Linked DNA regions of Homo sapiens. The protein of the gene in region 1 interacts with the protein of each later gene in a pairwise test. Each region holds a gene or a part of one and is shown on either strand. Other genes may lie near its edges. The genes, in order: DEFA6 and SGTB.

What was found.
Region 2: the proteins of DEFA6 (region 1) and SGTB interact in binary tests that used the Homo sapiens proteins (3 or more experiments, as listed by UniProt).

The regions. Positions count from the first base shown.
Region 1 is NC_000008.11:6,923,966-6,927,415, forward strand, and holds DEFA6 (defensin-6 preproprotein), read right to left. Parts: upstream 2,112-3,450; 5' UTR 2,071-2,111; coding exon 1,878-2,070; intron 963-1,877; coding exon 853-962; 3' UTR 732-852; downstream 1-731. UniProt on the Homo sapiens protein: Host-defense peptide that contributes to intestinal innate immunity and mediates homeostasis at mucosal surfaces by forming higher-order oligomers that capture bacteria and prevent microbial invasion of the epithelium.
Region 2 is NC_000005.10:65,670,110-65,673,936, forward strand, and holds part of SGTB (small glutamine-rich tetratricopeptide repeat-containing protein beta), read right to left. Parts: intron 2,173-3,827; coding exon 2,135-2,172; intron 1,890-2,134; coding exon 1,806-1,889; intron 249-1,805; coding exon 137-248; 3' UTR 1-136. UniProt on the Homo sapiens protein: Co-chaperone that binds directly to HSC70 and HSP70 and regulates their ATPase activity.

The DNA.
Region 1 (3,450 bases):
GTTCTGGCCAGAGTCGGAAGGGCCAGGACCCCACGTTCCTTCCTCCTATGTTTGTATCCCATTCAAACCAAGATTAAAATTCTAAGCCCTCCAGCCAACTGAATGGACGCCTCCTCTCAGCCCAAGGCATTCTAGTGTTAACCTCAAACACTGGTTCAGGCCATGATGGGACGTGGGGATCAGGAATACCTCATGATATCCTCCTCCCATTGGAATTCAGGCACAGCTGGCCAGCATTAACATTAAAACAGAGTGCCTAAGGCCACGTGCGGTGGCTCATGCCTGTAATCCCAGCACTTTGGGAGGCCGAGGTGGGCGGATCACTTGAGGTCAGGAGTTCGAGACCAGCCTGGTCAACATAGTGAAACCCTGTCTCTACTAAAAATACAAAAATTACTTGGCGTGGTGGTGGATACCTGTAATCCCAGCTACTTGGGAGGCTGAGGCAGGAGAATCACTTGAACCCAGGAGGTAGAGGTTTCAGTGAGCCAAGATTGTGCCACTGCACTGCAGCCTGGGCAACAGAGCGAGACTCCATCTCAGAAAGCAAAAAACAAAAAAACAAAAAACCCAAATCCTCTCTTCTCTCAACATCCTCTCTACCACTTCTCTGGTCTACATAGAAAACTCTTTCGAAGAGCTAGTGTTCTGAGATACGACTTGGGTTTTTGTTTTTGCATCTGAAGAATCCTGAATTATCAAACACCAGAAAAGCACAAACACAAAAGAACTTGCTGAAAGGACTTTATTTGAGATGAGGAAACAAAGTTGATGGCAATGTATAGGACACACGACAGTTTCCTTCTAGGTCATAAAGTAAATTATGAATATATTTCTCTCTGTTCTCATCCCTCAGAGGCAGCAGAATCTGTGGTTAATACCCATGACAGTGCAGGTCCCATAGGAATATTCTGTTGAATAACAGGACCTTCTGCAATGGCAAGTGAAAGCCCTTGTTGAGCCTGGGGACAGAGAGAGAGAGCATCAGAAATTGAGCACCAGGGTCAGCAGCGGGCAGTAAAGAGAATCTTCAGGAAGTTGCATGCTTGCTGACATGTAATGCTGGCTGCATTACAGCCAATAGCATGATCACACCATCAATAGGAATAAATACGCAGAGCAGTGTTGGTCACACACAGGATTAGAGAGCCATTCTGATATGCTGTACTTATCTGCTCCTTCCCTGTCACACACACATCTGAATGCACCCATATGACTGTCTCCAGTTTGCAACGGTTCCTATAAAAGTCAGATTAAAAAACATTCCTTTAGCAGCTGGATGTGGTGGCTTACGCCTGTAATCCCAGCACTTTGGGAGGCCAAGGTGGGTTTATCACAAGGTCAGGAGTTCAAGACTAGCCTGGCCAAGATGGTGAAACCCCGTCTCTACTGAAAAAAAAAAAAATACAAAATTTAGCCAGGCTTGGTGTCTGGTGCCTGTAATCCTAGTGACTTGGGAGGCTGAGGGAGAGAATTGCGTGAACCCAGGAGGCAGAGGTTGCAGTGATCTGAGATAGTGCCACTGCACTCCAGCCTGGGTGACAGAGCGAGACTCCATCAAACAAAACAAAACAAAACAAAGCAAAACAAAACATTCCTTTAAAATTAGGCTCTCTTCCTTGAAGTAGAGACTCCTCAATACATTTCTACATGGCAAAAAATTAGAAAATTTCATAGACTTATCATAGAATTAAAAAATCTTTAGAGAAAAGTCATGCCTTGAATATCACTGATTCTTCCTTTTCAGTACAAACATAAAGTAATTGAGGCCTGGGGAGGTGATCACCTAAGAGAAAGAGCCAGCTGTTGGATCTAATTCTAGAAGTGCTTGGTTTTCCTCTCTACACTCCTAGCTCTGCAATGCTGGTGTCTCTTACCCAAAGCTCTAAGACTTGAGCTTGCATCCTCTGCAAAGGAGACGGCAAAGTCCTGGTCATTTGCCCCACGCTGCTCCTGGGCATCAGCCTCATAAGCTTTTGCCTGCAGTGGATCATCCTCAGCTTGGAGTGGCTCAGCCTTGGCCTGGAGGGCCACGAGGAGAACAGCAGTGAGGATGGTGAGGGTTCTCATGGCTAGGGTCGCTGGAGGAGAGAGAGCAGGAGCAGATGTGTGGGGAGTGAGGAGCCAGCCTGGATTTATAGGTCTGCTGGGAGAAGGCTCAGGGACAGATGTTGCGGTGAGACGGGGAGTGCATGTGATTGGGGAGCAGAAGAGCTACCCTTGCCCTCCATGTCCCTTTGATGCTCCTTTGTTCTCCAAGCTTCATTGTAGTGTGAGGCTGTTTATTGAGTGTCTGTTCTGGTCCCAGCTGATAGTGATGATAAGAACAGTGTTACATTGTCCTGTTTTCCATCTGCTGGAATATTTACTTGTTAATATTCAAAAAAGAAAAGAACAGTGCTTTCAATGAATAATTTCAGGAATCAAATGCCTCTTATTTTCTGAAGGTGGGGCTGGCCACTCTCTGGAGGTCTAGACCTTGAGGCCAGAGCTGGATCCCGCTAGAGTAGAGAGTTAATTCATTGCAGGATTCAGGGGGCATTTCTGCCCTCATGAAGGAGGCTTTGAGATTATGGGGTGAATAGGCTCTTGTGGGGCACAGTGTGGAGAAGATAATGACCTTATCAGCCTATAAGGGAAAAGAACTCAGTGGGATACTAGGTAAAGAGTTAGTAAAACTAAAGCCAAAAGATTTATTTCAAGAAACCCATGTGATCTGAATGTATCAACTAAAATATGTACTAGGTATTTCTCTCCACTTTGAGAAACATCGAAACAATTGACATGCCCACAATCCCCCTCTGAAATTTTATTTTATTTTTAATTTTAGAAAATGTTGAATTGCCCACAAGGACCATTCAAAGGGTAAAAGGAGTAATGAGCCTCCATCCTTGCCCCAGCCCTGCAGCTCTGCTCCAGGAAATCTCCACTTAAAAATTAAACATTGGTTTGTGCTTTGTTTTTTCTCCCTAATGCTGTAATTTGAATACTTTGTAGCTCAAAACATATAGAACTCTACCATTATTTTCATAGTCTCTTGTTTCTGGTCTTCTATTCAGGTATTTTATCCATTTTGAGTTAAGTTTTGTATATGCCAAAAGAGAAGGGTCCAGTTTTATTGTTTTGCATATGGAAATAGTATTCCCACCACCATTTATTGAAGAGACTCTCCTGTCCCTATTGTGTCTTCTTCATGCCATTGTCAAAAGTTACTTGACCATATGTGTTTCGATGTGTTTCTGGACTCTCAATTTTATTTCACTGGTATGTGTCTGGTTTTATGCCAATACCATATTGTTTTGATTACCGTAGCTTTGTAATATAATTTAAAACCAGGAATTGTGATGTCTTCAACTTTGTTTTTTTTTCTCAGAATTGTTTTGTCTATTTGGGTTCTTTCACCATTTCATACAAATTTTAGGATTTTTTTTTTTATTTCTGTAAAGAATG
Region 2 (3,827 bases), on another chromosome or scaffold:
GAGGTTTTCCTCCATTATTTTCACACATCAGATATGGTGTTTGGTTTTTTGAAGGAGGGAGGGGGTACTATCTACAACAAATACTTCATTCATAGCCATAAACCATTTGTATCTTGGGCTTGAGCCCCTGGTTAAATCAGGAATGCTCTTCAGCGCTGCTGCTGAATGATCTGCTCCGGATGTGATTTCTCAGTTGCTCTATAAGTTCAGGATTTTGTTGCTGTATCTGCTGAGCAAACTGCTGTCCCCTGTAGTAAAGAGGCAATGTGGTTTGAATAGGGAATTGCCAGTCACATTTACCCACGCAAAAAGAAATGCAGAAAATGTAGGAGCTACCTAAAGGGGGCTTTTTTCTATAAAAACAAGTTTCAGAGCCATGACTTTAGAATCTACAAGTTTACCAATGCCTCCATATAGCATTATTACAATGCAGTGTTCTTTATAAGAAACAAAACACCCATGCTAAAAAAAATAAGTACCTCAACTGGGTGAAATCTACTTCTCTAGTGCTAATGACAAAGAAGCAAAGGGTAAGACGTATATGTTTTTATTGTATGTGCTCAAATACAATGCTTTTATACCCAAGTCTTAATAGTCTCATATAACACCCAGTTTGGGATGCTTTTGGAGGTCACCTAACAAGTAATTTTAAAAACACTAAGAAGTTTAACACAAATTGTAGTATGTGACCCTCTATTGCCAGTGTTAGATGTCATTATATGCCATTTAAAGGTCATTCTAAAAATGCAATATTCTAAGTGGATACACAGTTGTGCTGACAAACAACAAGTGGTACTGTGGCTTCATATAAAATGTCCAGCGAGAGCATCAGACACAGATTCAAAAAGCAAAGTTGTCTTCGCCAATTTGATATAAGTGAAGGCAATGTGCTCAAGTAATGAGAAGATGCAAGTAGTTCCTCTAAGTGTTGACAGGCACTGAAAAAGTTTGAATAAAAATTTCCTGAATTGCCTGAACATTAAAGTATGTAACAAGTGATTTTAAACTATGTATGTGTACCTAAATTGATATATATTTTAAGAGGATATTTGACCTTCATCTGTGTCCCTGAGTAGTTTGAAGTCTGCTGAAAAACTTCCTGGATCTTCATTGGGAAAAAATGGGGGATTAATAGCTTTATATATATATGAGATCACAATTTATTTGGACATATGATTTTTACTGTTTGTCTCCATACCCTCAAAGTACCAGGTCACCAATCCTTGGGACCCTCTGTAAGCAGAGATACAGTATTGATACCCCCACTTAAAAACCAAGGACCCTAATTTCATGCTGACAACACAATCAAGTAAAATTAGGCTGCAAATGAAAAGACTGAATGTGCTATGGGTTCCTTAGTAAGTCACTAACCTGTACCTCAGTTTCTCTAGCCATTGGGTAGGGATATAAATTATCTACTTTTCTAATATCTGTCCCTCACCTGCCTTATTGAGATGGTGCCAAAAAAGAAAAGAAGAAAAAGATTCTGCTGGTACTTGAAAGTCCCAAAAAATAAAGCATAATGAACCGGGGGCGGGGGTGGGGGTGGGGGGAAGCATAATAAACATGGTTCTTTTTCTCAACAGACAGGGCTGGCCAGACTATCTAGGTATGGATTCCTGCCCTGCAGTCTAAAAAGTGGTTGTAATTCATGAACTTCTTTCAGATTTAGTAACATTAAGGAGGCTAAAGTTACTAACGGTAAAAGATAAACATTTAAAAAGAAAGCCCTGACCCCTCACCATAGAGATAGGCTGTAAAACATAAAATACATCTTCACTATTTCTGTTTTAAATAATACTTACGCTTGGATGAGGCTTGACAGGTCAGTTAGGCCCCCAACTCCAGCAGCAGGTCCCCCAATGGCATTTGTCATCATTCCTGACATTCTAGAGTACACAAGAAATACATCACTGGGATTGGTATATATTCTTAACAAATAGGACAACTGGACGAGGAAAAGTTAATAAAATACCCATGTTATACCAGAGGCTAGGCCAAATGTGTGTGGCTTTAAGCTCCAACTGACTGTCATTCAGAACAGTTTCATCATTTTTGAGCTGATGTGCTCAAATTAGGAGCCTGGCAAGTGGAAGGGTTGGGGAAGTGTAATAAGCTCTTTCTATATACTTACAGCTGTTGAACTTGAGGGTTCTGCATTAAACTTGCCGCCTGGAATTGAAAAACAGCACCTCCCATTAAAGGCAGTTAATATGTAGGGATCTTAGCAAAGATTTTTTTTTTAGAAGAATGAAAGCTAAATCATGTATGCACTAACATTTTGTAGAGTTTCAGTGTGCTATGCAAAGTAAAGGGGAATGTAAAAAGAGAGAAGGTACTAGAAAAAGTGGCATTAAGAAGACATGGTGAGGATAAAGAGATTACAAACAACACTATAAACTGAGGATGTTGACAGCAGTTTACTTACTACTGCTATCAGACCAATTAAGCCAAAAGGAAAAATAGGAACTTTAAAAGTATGGTTAAGGGATCTCCTACACTTGAGAAGGTCCATTCCAAACGAGCTTTTAAGAGATGTGACTTTGCTCCATGGGGCCCAGCAATTTCAATCCTTCCCATGCTTACAGTGGCACAAGGAATTATATTTATGTGCACACATACTTTTAAAACATTCTATTTTGAAAGCATCACATTTTTTCCCTCAAATTGGTAATGTCGACAATATTTATGTAAAATTTGAATTTAGTCTAAATCTTTGTAGACAATAGATTATATTCACAGACTCTCTATGAGGTGTTGGGAAAAGCCACCACTTGCTTATATTACCAGAAAGATCACTGACTGATTCGTAAGTAATTCAAAACTTTCCTCAAGTCCCAGTCAGGATTGGTGCCTCTGAGCCAACCCATAAGTGCTAAAGGCATTACACAGGAAAAGCAGGATGTATGAGCTATAAACATGAAATGCTGTGTTTTGCAATCCCTTTAAACTAGTTCTGCAGCAGTAGTTCTTCCCCTTCTCCCACAATCTAGGACCTAGAGGAAATTTAGAACAGATCTATGCTTTTCCAGTCACTTTTCAGTAAGCAATCCTCCTGTCACTTTAAGTTCTATAAAATGACCTCCAGTTCAGCAATTAATGTCTCAGTGTAACAATCAAATACATAAAGCTTCATTTACAGGTAAAACTTCTCCCTTCCTAGCATGGGCCTGCTACAGACTGACCGGTTGTAGTAGAAAAGAGGCACCATTGACTGCTTTGTTTCCTATAGTAGCGGTCCCCAACCCCTGGGCCACAGACTGTTAGGAACCAGGCTGCACAGCAGCAGGTAAGCGGTGGGCGAGCAAGCATTACTGCCTGAGCTCCACCTCCTGTCAGATCAGCTGCAGCATTAGATTCTCATAGGAGCAAGAACCCTATTGTGAACTGCGCATGTGAAGGACCTAGGTTGAGTGCTCCTCAAGAGAATCTAACGCTCCTCTCCCCATCCTGCCCCTACCCCCTACACCCGGTATGGTCCATGGAAAAACTGTCTTCCATGAAACCAGTCCCTGTTACAAAAAGGTTGGGGACCGCTGTCCTATAGGGCTATTTTTTTTTTTTGAGATGAAGTTTCACTCTGTCACCCAGGCTGGAGTGCAATGGCATGACCTCAGCTCACTGCAACCTCTGCCTCCCGGAGTCAAGTGATTCTCCTGCCTCAGCCACCCAAGTAGCTGGGATTACAGGCATGCACCACCATGCCCAGCTAATTTTTGTATTTTTAGTAGAGACGGGGTTTCGCCAGGTTGGCCAGGCTGGTCTGGAACTCCTGACCTCAAGTGCTCCGCCCATCTTAGCCTCCCAAAGTGCTGGGATTACAGGTG